Linked DNA regions of Homo sapiens. The protein of the gene in region 1 purifies or fractionates together with the protein of each later gene. This does not show direct contact. Each region holds a gene or a part of one and is shown on either strand. Other genes may lie near its edges. The genes, in order: JADE3, HRG and KAT6B.

Evidence for each region.
Region 2: the proteins of JADE3 (region 1) and HRG purify together in Homo sapiens (affinity purification with mass spectrometry, with the first as the bait; one large-scale study listed by BioGRID). This does not show direct contact.
Region 3: the proteins of JADE3 (region 1) and KAT6B purify together in Homo sapiens (affinity purification with mass spectrometry, with the first as the bait; one large-scale study listed by BioGRID). This does not show direct contact.

Annotation. Positions count from the first base shown.
Region 1 is NC_000023.11:47,051,920-47,055,569, forward strand, and holds part of JADE3 (protein Jade-3), read left to right. Parts: intron 1-2,238; coding exon 2,239-2,709; intron 2,710-3,650. UniProt on the Homo sapiens protein: Scaffold subunit of some HBO1 complexes, which have a histone H4 acetyltransferase activity.
Region 2 is NC_000003.12:186,664,461-186,668,899, forward strand, and holds the start of HRG (histidine-rich glycoprotein precursor), read left to right. Parts: upstream 1-1,553; 5' UTR 1,554-1,571; coding exon 1,572-1,754; intron 1,755-4,439. UniProt on the Homo sapiens protein: Plasma glycoprotein that binds a number of ligands such as heme, heparin, heparan sulfate, thrombospondin, plasminogen, and divalent metal ions. Binds heparin and heparin/glycosaminoglycans in a zinc-dependent manner.
Region 3 is NC_000010.11:74,829,589-74,833,238, forward strand, and holds part of KAT6B (histone acetyltransferase KAT6B), read left to right. Parts: intron 1-3,650. UniProt on the Homo sapiens protein: Histone acetyltransferase which may be involved in both positive and negative regulation of transcription. Required for RUNX2-dependent transcriptional activation. May be involved in cerebral cortex development.

The DNA.
Region 1 (3,650 bases):
CCCCGTCTCTACTAAAATACAAAAATTAGCAGGACTTGGTGGCGCACGCCTATAATCCCAGCTACTCACAAGGCTAAGGTGGGAGGATCACTTGAGCCTGGGAGGCAGAGGTTGCAGCGAGCCAAAATCGCGCCACTGCACTCCAGCCTGGGCAACAGAGTGAGACCCAGTCTCAATCAATCAGTCAGTCTTTGGAAGGAAAGCTGTAACATTGTAACCATAACAAATAGTAATTAAGGCTAACTGAAGCACAGGAGTATAGTAGTCATGGGCCAGGTCCTTCCCCCTTTGCCCCCCCCTATGAATAGTCAGTACATACTGCATAGTAATGCTTAATAAATGTGTTAAATCTATGACTGAATGGCAGAATATTATAAACTTAATTTCAGATTGTCTGTAACCATATTGTTCAATAGAACTTTCCACAGTGGGCCAGGCACAGTGGCTCACACCTGTAATCCCAGCACTTTGGCATGCTGAGGCGGGCGGATCACCTGAGGCCAAGCATTCGAGACCAGGCTGGCCAACATAGTGAAACCCTGTCTCTACCAAAAATACAAAAAAATTAGCCAGGTGTGGTGGCAGGCACGTGTAGTCCCAGCTACTTGGGAGGCTGAGGCAGGAGAATCACTTGAACCCTGGAGGTGGAGGTTGCAATGAGCCGAGATTGTGCCACTGCCCTCCAGCCTCAGCAACAGAGTGAGACTCTGTCTCAAAAAAAAAAAAAAAAAAAAAAAAAACTTTCCACAGTGATGGAAATGTTTTATGTCTGTGCTGTCTAGTGTAGTTAAAATGTGGCTACTGTGACTGAGAAACTAAATTTTTTAATTATACATAATTTTAATTAAATTTAAGGCTAAGCGCAGTGGCTCACACCTGTAATCCCAGCACTTTGGGAGGCTAAGGCAGTCAAATCACTTGAGGTCAGGAGTTTGAGACCAGCCTGACCAACATAGTGAAACCCCATCTCTACTAAAAATACAAAAATTAGCCGGGCATGGTGGCACATGCCTGTAATCCCAGCTACTCGGGAGGCTGAGGCAGGAGAATTGCTTGAACCTGGGAGGCAGAGGTTGCAGTGAGCCGAGATTGCACCACTGCACTCCAGCCTGGGTGACAAAGTGAGACACCGTCTAAAAAAATTTTTTTAAAAAATGAAATAGCCACTCATGGCTACTTGGCCACCAAGTTGGACAGCTCAGTTCTATAACAACAATTTCACGGGGCATGGTGGCTCACACCTGTAATCCCAACGCTTTAGGAGGCTGAGGCTGGTGGATCACTTGAGCCCAGGAGTTCAAGACCAGCCTGAGCAACATAGATTCTCTATTTTTAAATATTTTAAAAAATTCTTTTTGAGATAGGTTCTCACTCTGTTGCCCAGGCTGGAGTACATTGGTGTGATCTCGGCTCACTGCAGCTTGGACCTCCCGGGTTCAGGCAATTCTCATGCCTCAGCCTCCCAAGTAGCTGGGACTACAGACATGCACCACCATGCCCAGAAAGCTTTTGTATTTTTAGTAGAGACAGGGTTTCGCCATGTTGCCCAAGCTGGTCTCGAACTCCTGGCCTCAAGTGATCCACCTGCCTTGGCCTCCCAAAGTGCTGGGATCACAGGCGTAAGCCACTGTGCTCTGGCCTAAAATTTTTATGTTTAAAAAAAAAATTCAAGAAGTTAGGTTACTTAGATATTGGAATTCCTATGACTTTTTTAGAACCAGTGGATGCTCTAGCAATAATACTCACTTTGTGTGTTTTCTTTTGTTTGTTTAGAAACATTTTCTGAGCAACTGCTTCTTCAATAGTTAATGACGATGCAAAATGAAAGACACAGCTTCTGTTTTTAAGATCTATCCCTAAGGACTTGACAATTGTTATAGGTACAGTGTGAAAAGTACCATTTTAAAAGCATTCATAGGGTGATGTGGGAGACACAGAGAAGAGACTACATGACTGTTTACAGGAGCCCAGGAAAGCATCTCAGAAAACTTGATGCTTGAATGCTTGAGCTGAAACCTCAAAAGGAGTGTTTGAATTATTTTTGGCCTCTGTGTTTGCTGTTTTCTGTAAGAACAGGTTTCTTGGGTTACTTGTAAAGCATCTGTTATGGTCAGTTTAGGACTAACTTTCTCCCGGTCTTTCTTTTGCTTCCTACAAGCTATCAATTTAGGTCCAGAAACATAGGTCTCTCCCTTTTCCTCCAACTCTGCTACCTTGACACCTATTTTCTTCCTACAGTGCTCTATAAAAAGCTGCATCACTGCCTTCCACGTCACCTGTGCCTTTGAGCACGGCCTAGAGATGAAGACCATCCTAGATGAGGGAGACGAAGTGAAGTTCAAGTCATATTGCCTCAAGCATAGCCAAAACAGGCAGAAACTTGGAGAAGCTGAGTACCCCCACCACAGGGCTAAAGAGCAGAGCCAGGCCAAAAGTGAGAAAACCAGCCTGCGGGCACAGAAGCTTCGGGAGCTGGAGGAGGAGTTCTATTCCTTGGTACGAGTGGAAGATGTGGCCGCAGAGCTGGGTATGCCCACGCTAGCTGTGGACTTTATCTATAACTACTGGAAACTGAAGCGGAAAAGTAACTTCAATAAGCCATTATTTCCTCCAAAGGAGGATGAAGAAAATGGGCTGGTGCAGCCAAAAGAGGAAAGCATTCACACTCGAATGAGAATGTTTATGCATCTACGCCAGGACCTGGAGAGGGTAAGGTGACCAGCTGTGACTAGTATATAGGCCTCGGTCTGTGTAGAAATGGAGGTCCCACTTCTGGTTTAATAATGGTCAGTCAGCTCATAATAGTGTGGGCTTCTGTGTCCTTGCTTATCTTCTGATCTCTTTATGGCCCCAGACATTGGGCTCTGTGTAAATTCTGACAGGCACATCCAGGGGATTTGGGAGGCCTCGGGTATATGCTCTATGAACTTTACATTTGAAATAAACTCTCATTTGGTTTACTTTTTATTCACTGTTGAGCCTAAATTGGCCCATCCATATTTTACTGACATATTTATGAGACTTTAGGCTGAAGAAAGAGTGAATTTTGTTCAGGAAAACACCAAATTAGAGTTTCACAAACTTGGCACTGTTGACATTTTGGACTGGATAGTTGTTTGTTGTTAGGGGGCTGTCCTTTGTTGTAGGGGCAATTTAAGATGTTTACCAGCATCCCTGGCCTCTACCCACTAGATGCCAGTAGCACCCGCACACACACCCCCAGCGTGACAACCAAAAATGTCTGCAAATTACCAAATTTGCTCTCCAGTTGAGAGCCACTCCACATGATAATTCAATATAACTCATGGTATATTTATCAGGTATCTACTAAATGAGATACTGCAGGGCTTCAAAGGTAAGTTAAGCCCTGTGTTTATCCTAGAGAATTTTCTAATTAAATGTAAATCTATAAATGGCTTGTGTTTTTTTTTCTCTGCTACCAGAATTTGAAAGAGAACTAATAGATTTGGCTCACTTTTAAAAATTTAAGACACTCACATATAGCACCTACTATTACTATTATTGCCAACACTGTCCTAAGCATTTTATAAATATTAATTCATTTAATTCTAACATGCCCATGAAAAACTATTATTATCATCATCACTATTTACAGATGAACAAACTGGGGCAAAGAAAGTTTGTGTAAC
Region 2 (4,439 bases), on another chromosome or scaffold:
CTAGAATCCCAGTAATTCTCAACCTTGACTGCACACACTGGATTACCTAGGAGTTTAAAAACTACCAATACCAAAGTCCACTCCCAGAGATTCTGATTAAATTGTCCTGGAGGAGTCCTTGACATCAGGACTTTTTAAAGCTCCTGGGGTGATTCTAACATGAAGCCGAGTCTGAGAGACATGACTGCAGACTCTCACAGACACTCACTGCGGATAGAACAGGGAGGAATGGAGATGCTGCCTAACTGGCTGTTTCTTGGCAGTGAGGACGGAACCTAGGCTGATTCCCTCTGGTCCCTTCTGATGCTGCTGGCTCTGCTGGTCTGAGGGTTGCATATAGGTATACGGGTTTCTTCTGAAGTGTGAAGGTAGGGGGTCAGCTGTATCATAGCCCAGTCCCCCCCTGCTGATCCCTTCTAACAGTGGGATGGGCATCCAACTATTTGACTCTTACTCTCACCACCATCCTCTTCCACGTGAATCAATTCTTTTTGCAGGGAATTGGGGTGGCATGAGGTGTCCCCAACTTCTTTGCAGGCACACTAATAATAAATAGCATCACTTATTCAGCATCTACTCTATGCCAAGAATTATACTGGTTGCTTTCTTTTTTTCTTTCTTTCTTTTTTAGATGGAATCTCACACTGTCGCCCGAGCTGGAGTGCAGTGGCGCGATCTCAGCTCACTGCAATCTCCGCCTCCCGGGTTCAAGTGATTCTCCTGCCTCAGCCTCCCAAGTAGCGGCGATTACAGGCATGTGCCACCATGCCCAGCTAATTTTTTGTATTTTTAGTAGAGACAGGGTTTCACCATGTTGGCCAGGCTGGTCTCAATCTCCTGACCTTGTGATCAGCCTGCCTTGGCCTCCCAAAGTGCTGGGATTACAGGCATGAGCCACCGCACCCAGCCTGATTTCTTATTTAATTATCACACAAGCCTGCCAAGAGGTATCAATCCATATTTCGTAAATGAGGGAACTATCAGAGAAGTTTTGTTGCTTACCCAGCATTACACAGTAAGAAAGTAATAGAGCCAGGTGAGAAATTCAGATTTGACTTCAAAACGACAGCCTCTTCATTGTTCTATTTTACCTGAAGTCATTCCTTTTATAATGGTACCTGTTTAACATGTTCCCCCGCTTAGATAATGCAGCTGCCTTCTACTGAGGAGTTTTAGTGCCATGATCCATCAGTCCACTGACTGATGATGGAGATTTCCAGCTGAGACAGGCAGGCAGATGGAGGAAAATTACCCCTAGCCCCACCCCCTACACCAACATAGGCACTGCTTATATTCAAAGACGTACTTTAGATCTGCTATCTACTAGAAAAATCCAGATTTGTGCAGATCACAGTTCCACCCACTCATCAGCATTTCTCAGCTTTCTGCCCCCAGGACCCACTAATCATTTACAGCTTGTTGATGGTTATTTGAACCCAGGGTCAAGGTGAACACCCTCAGTTACACAACAAAAATGTATCAAGGTTTTGTTTAATCAATTGCGTGTGTTTCAGAAAGTCTGTATAAAATTCTCTGCAGTGGCAGATCATAGCAAGGGATGGTTTAACAAAATGAAGGCACTCATTGCAGCACTGCTTTTGATCACATTGCAGTATTCGTGTGCCGTGAGTCCCACTGACTGCAGTGCTGTTGAGCCGGAGGCTGAGAAAGCTCTAGACCTGATCAATAAAAGGCGACGGGATGGCTACCTTTTCCAATTGCTGCGGATTGCTGATGCCCACTTGGACAGAGTGGTGAGGAATTGCCAATGGCAGAGCTGAGTTGGGAGATTACTCACGGGGGCAAATGTGACTCTACCCCCTAGGCTTACTGCTTTGCACAATGAATGGCTTTGGTCAGAGTTTTTTGTTTGGCTTCTGCGGCTGCTCTAAATTGTTCTTTTTTCCTTCAAACTAATATTTGTTATTAGTGTACCCGCAACTATGATTCGATTTGTGGGTACATATAAGCATTTATGCTGAGCCCAGTTACATGCTAAGGACTGCCAGAGAAACATTAGAATAAGCTATGGGCCTTGGCCTCCAGGAAATAATAATACACTGGCACATACAGGCAAACAGTGTAAGTTACTAGGATAAACTAGAGAGAAGGAAAAGTTTTCTCAACCCTCCTAAGGCTCCTAACTGAGCCTGAAATAAAACTGGTAGACAAGGCCAGGCGCGGTGGCTCACGCCTGTAATCCCAGCACTTTGGGAGGCCAAGGCGGACGGATCATGAGGTCAGGAGTTCAAGACCAGCCTGGCCAACATGGTGAAACCCTGTCTCTACTAAAAATACAAAAACTAGCTGGGCATGGTGGTGCACGCCTGTAATCCCAGCTACTCAGGGGGTTGAGGCAGAAGAATCGCTTGAACTCGGGAGGCAGAGGTTGCAGTGAGTCGAGATCATGCCACTGCACTCCAGCCTGGGCAACAAAGCTAGACTCCATCTCAAAAAAAAAAAAGAAGAAGAAGAAAACATACAAATTTATTTAATCCAAGGTTTACCTGACACTGGAGTCTTCATAAATGAAGACTCAGATATCCAAAGAAACTGGCCACTTGCATACTTAGAATTCACAAAGGCTGTGCAGAATGCAGAAGTGTGATGGGACAAAAGGCTGTAATCTAAGAGTCATAGACTGAAAGAAGGACCCAGCAAGGCCTCTCTGTTTGAGTTCTTCATGGCCTCTCTGTGTGGCATTTCTTGCTCCCAAGTATGGGACAGGATCCCTTTGGAATGCGGATCTGAGGACCTACTATCAAACAGAGTAGGTCAGAGAATGTCTTTATGGCCAGCTCCTACAAAGAAAGACACAGGGGGAAGGTTAGATTCATATTTTAGGATTTATGGATGCTTTCGGGGAGAGGGATTCTACCATCTGTGACTGTCCTGGAGAAGAGAAATTTTAGTTTCTATGGCTTGCCTTGGGGGAGAAAGCAGAGTAGGAGAACAAAGGGCAGAAGGTCAGACAGATCTGGCTTCTGAGGCCCTTCCCATTTTCTTCAGTTCAAAGGACTCAGCACGCCAAAAGTACCATACTTTGAGATACCATGTTCTGAGCCCCAACAATAGCCAAGTGACCAAAGGAGTGGTAAATGTACTGGAGCAATTTAATGAGGGGAGATCTAGTAAGACTGGATGGGAGGAGGCTTCTGCTGTGTAATGATGCATGGGTAGGATTTGAACAGGTCTGGGTAAATGTGTTCCTGGTGAATTCCTGGCACCACCACTTCTAGGTGGGTATGGAATCAGGAAGAAGGGTGTTAGGGAGCCATTGAATATAAGCAGGTGGGTTCCAGAAGTTCCATGTGGGCTCTGGAGCAGGCATCAGGTAGGAGCCAAGCCTGTGGGCTTGTCTTGAGGTGAAACAAGCTTACTGTCTTCGCTTAGATTACACGCCTACCTAAACTGGACTAGAGGAGCCGATAGACATTATAGAGAGACATGAAGCCTGCCTCTAAGCTCCCCAAATAACCTACTCTCCCTCTGATGGAAAAACTGAAATTAGGGAGGCCAGACAAGGAGTACTACAGAGGACAATTTACCCTTCTGAAAGTATCACAGAGGGAGGCACTGTGGGTTGCAGAGAACAGGTGTGCAGGAGTTTAGGATTCAACCAGTAATTCAGTGACCATTAGTCCCATGCCAGGCTCATCAACACATGTTAGGGCATAGGATGCATCAGCACAGAGCTGCCTCTGAGAGCTAGCATAGAGAGCGGGTGGATGGGGAGGGGTCCTGATGTGCCTGGGGAAACTGAGGCAAGAGACAGGGACATGAAGTAGAAAGCTATTTATGTATTCAGGAATGAAAGAACAAGGGTCAGACCTGGGTTAGTGGGAGTCAGGGCAATGAGACTGAGGAATAGACATGAGAGACGTTGCCAAGAAAGACCATTCAGGGCCTGGTACTGGATAGCAAAAGCAAGGACAAGGAAAACATCTCGTAGGTTTACATGTTTTACCCCAGAGTCTAAGGCAATATGTTGTTAGTGGTGCCACTGACAAAGACGAGGGAAGTGGAGAGGGCAGCTAGTTTGTAAGAGAAGAGAGAGGATTTAGCTTTGGGCAAAGCAACATCAAAGCAGAAAATCCCATGATCAGTAATAGAGCTGGGCAAGAGGACACAACTACAAGGACAGATTGGAGGCCCTGATGAGGTCGTCATGACTTATACTTCCAGGCATGCGTAGGTGATGATGCCTCCGCTAAACCACCACTGCCGTTTAGTGATAGCTTCTTCAAGTTTATGGGCAGAAGACAAATCAGGACCACTTAAAAAGATTTGGAAATAACTCATTGAAGCTATGTATTGGAATCAATAGATCAAATGACGCAAAGGTAGAGCATCTGCAAAGACAGTGAGAGGAACAGGAATTCTGTTTAAGTAATAAATATATAGCTTTAATACATAAAAAAAAACCCGCTAGGTTTCCA
Region 3 (3,650 bases), on another chromosome or scaffold:
ATTACAGACATGTGCCCAGCTAATTTTTGTATTTTTAGTAGAGGTGGGGTTTCGCCATGTTGGCCAGGCTGGTCTCAAACTCCTGACCTCAGGTGATCCACTCACCTCGGCCTCCCAGAGTGCTGGGATTAAATAAATAGTTTTATGTGGCTGGGTGTGGTGGCTCACGCCTGTAATCCCAGCACTTTGGGAGGCCGAGGTGGATGGATCACGAGGTCAAGAAATCAAGACCATCCTGGCCAACATGGTGAAACCCCATCTCTACTAAAAATACAAAAAATTAGCTGGGCATGGTGGCGGGCGCCTGTAGTCCCAGCTGCTCAGGAGGTTGAGGCAGGCGAATCACTTGAACCTGGGAGGCGGAGGTTGCAGTGAGCTGAGATTGCACCACTGCACTCCAGCCTGGCGACAGAGCGAGACTCTGTCTCAAAAAAAAAAAAACAAAAAAAAAAGAAAAATATTTTATGTAAGTAGGGATGTGTAAGCTGTAGTGATCAGTCTTTGTTGCAGAATGGTAAATGATGCGTGGATGAGAGAAGTGGGGTGATGGGATATTTCTTCCCTTTAATGCCTTAATTTGCATTTCCAAAGCACCTTTAAGCATCTTTTTATAGAACTCCCATGATCTTCTGATACCTGTCTTCTCGCAGACCCCAGAAAGAGAATACACCAATTTTCGTATCATCTATTCCATTGTTGCCGAATATTTGAGTTGTTTCAAGTTTGGGGCAATTGTGAACAAAGCTGCTATGAGCATTCCTATACCTGTCATCTGGTGCCCATGTGCACAAGTTTCTCTAAGGTATACACCTAGGAATGAAATTGCCGGTTTATAGCTAGGGTGACCATTTGTCCTGGTTTTTGCTTATTTTCCCAGCGTAACTGTAACACTTTTAGTTTTCAAAAGTATCTAGGGTTAGATGATGAATTGTATGGTCACCTAGTCATAAGGTATGCTTGTCTTCATCTTTACTAAGTACCAAACTCTTCTAAAGTATTGTACCAGGTTACACTCCCTCCAGCAATATATGAATTCCCTTGCTTCTCGCCCTCTCCAATCTCAGCCTTTTTAGCTTTTATGATTTTAGCCAATATGGTAAATTTTGCGTTTACCTGATTAGTAATCAGATTGCACAGCTCTTCATATATATATATATATATATATATATATATATATATATTTTTTTTTTTTTTTTTTTTTTTTTTTTTTTTTTTTGAGACGGAGTTTTGCTTTTGTCACCCAGGCTGGAGTGCAGTGGCGTGATCTTGGCTCACTGCAACCTCTGCTTCCTGGGTTCAAGCGATTCTCCTGCCTCAGCCTCCTGAGTAGCTGGGATTACAGGTGCCCACTACCACAACCAGCTAATTTTTTGTATTTTTAGTAGAGATGGGGTTTTGCCATGTTGGGCAGGCTTGTTTCAAACTCCTGATCTCAGTTGACCCGCCCGTCTTGGCCTCCCAAAGTGCTGGGATTACAGGCGTGAGCCTCTGCACCCGGCCAGCTCTTCATATACTTTTTTAGCCATTTAGATAGCCTCATTTATAAAGTTCTGTTCAAGTCTTTCCCACCCTGCTTTTAAAAGTTGGGCCTTGTATCTTTTATTGCTATTTAGAAGTTCTTTATTTACTGTGAATACAAGTCCTTTGTCATGTGTGTGTGTTGCAAATACTGTGGCTTGCCTTTTCACTCTCTTTATGGTGTCTTTTAATGAACAGAAGTTCTTAATTTTAATGGAGTCAAATTTATTGGTCTTTACTTTATGGTTAGTGCCTTTTGTGTCTTGTTTTAAGACTTTTCCTACCCTGAGGTCAATAAGATATTCTCCTATGCAGTACTATCTTTTTAAAGCTTTGTTGACCTTAAACAATGTATAACTATGAGTAAAATACACTCTTCTTGACCCCAGCCTCACCATTACAATCTATTTTTGCTTTCCTTCACTTTTTTCTGTTCTCTGTCTTGAATTTTTACTTCTCTGCAGCTATAACTAAGAGCCAGGTGCTGACTTCTCCTGTCTCTTAGGAGAAAATGGTCATATAGACAGAAGTTCAGCCAGATTAGATTTTACAGGTCTCCAGCTGACTGTATTGCCCTTTTTCCTTTTATGAGCTAGCATTTTATTGTGTTCCTGCTATGTGTCTGCCATCATCCTTGCTGCTTTCATATTTGTTATCTCAGTGATTCCTCTTAACGGTTCTGTAAAACAGAGAAGTATTCTCATTTTTACAGAAGAGAAAACAGAGACTTAGATTGATTTAGTAGCATGTCCAATATCCCCTAGCCTAGGTAGCTAGCAGAATGGGGACTGGATCCCTGACTCTGATACTTCCCATCACAGCACACCTACTTGTTGATTAAAATGTCAGAAACCTGTTTTTTGATAACATCCAAAACCAAAAAGAATAACTTTCTTACTCTTGATGTAACATGCCTTAAGTAAAGCACACAAAGCTAACTATTGTGAAACTGGATAAAATACCTCTCTGTATATAGCCAGTGGACCTTAAGTGGTCCATGGCTGGATGACAGAAGGTCTGTTAACCCTTAAAAATGTATACCAGTGTATATGGGTACATGTGCTTATTTTTTAGAGTAGAGCTATAATATTTATGAAACTCTCAAAAGGGAACCTGAATTTTTCAGGGTATCTGGATATCTGGTCTGAAGACATCTGTAATACAGTTAACAAAGAATCCTGTAATAATCTCTCTTTCAAAAGAATCATAAAAAAGTTAAGATGTCAGATTTTTCTCAGCCAGGTGCAGTGGCTCATGCCTGTAATCCCACTACTTTGGGAGGCTACAGTGAAAGGATCCCTTGAGCCCTGGAGTTCAAGACATGCCTGGGCAACATAGGGAGACCCCCGCCTCTATTTTTATTTATTTATTTAGATTTTTTGGTATCTTCATTTTATCTTATTTATTTTGTTGAGATAGAGTTTTGCTCTTGTTGCCCAGGCTGGAGTGCAATGGCGTAATCTTGGCTCACTGCAACCTCCACCTCCTGGGTTCAAGCAATTTTCCTGCCTCAGCCTCCCAAAGAGCTGGGATTACAGGCATGCGCCACCACGCCTGCTAATTTTTTGTATTTAGTAGAGATGGGGTTTCACCATGTTGGCCGGGCTGGTCTCAAACTCCTGACCTCAGGTGATCCACCTGCCTTGGCCTGTCGAAGTGCTGGGATTATAGGCATAAGCCACCAAGCCTGGCCTTGTATCTCTATTTTAAAAAGTTTTTTAAAAATCACATTTTTTGGCCGGGCATGATGGCTCATGCCTGTAATCCCAGCACTTTGGGAGGCTCAGGCAGCTGGATCACAAGGTCAGGAGCTCGAGACCAGCCTGGCCAACATGGTAAAACCCCGTCTCTACTAAAAATAAAAACAACAACAACAAACAAACAATGGCATGGTGGCATGTGCCTGTAATCCCAGCTACTCAGAAGGCTGGGGCAGGAGAGTCGTTTGAACCCGGGAGGCGGAGGTTGCAGTGAGCCGAGATCACGCCATTGCACTCCAGCCTGGGCAACAGGGCAAGACTCTGTCTCAAAAAAAAAAAAAAAAAAAAAAAAATCACATTTTTTCCCTTAATACATTATTCTCGGTCTTTGTCATCAAAAACCAACTAAAGCTAATTTGTAATTAGGGAGAA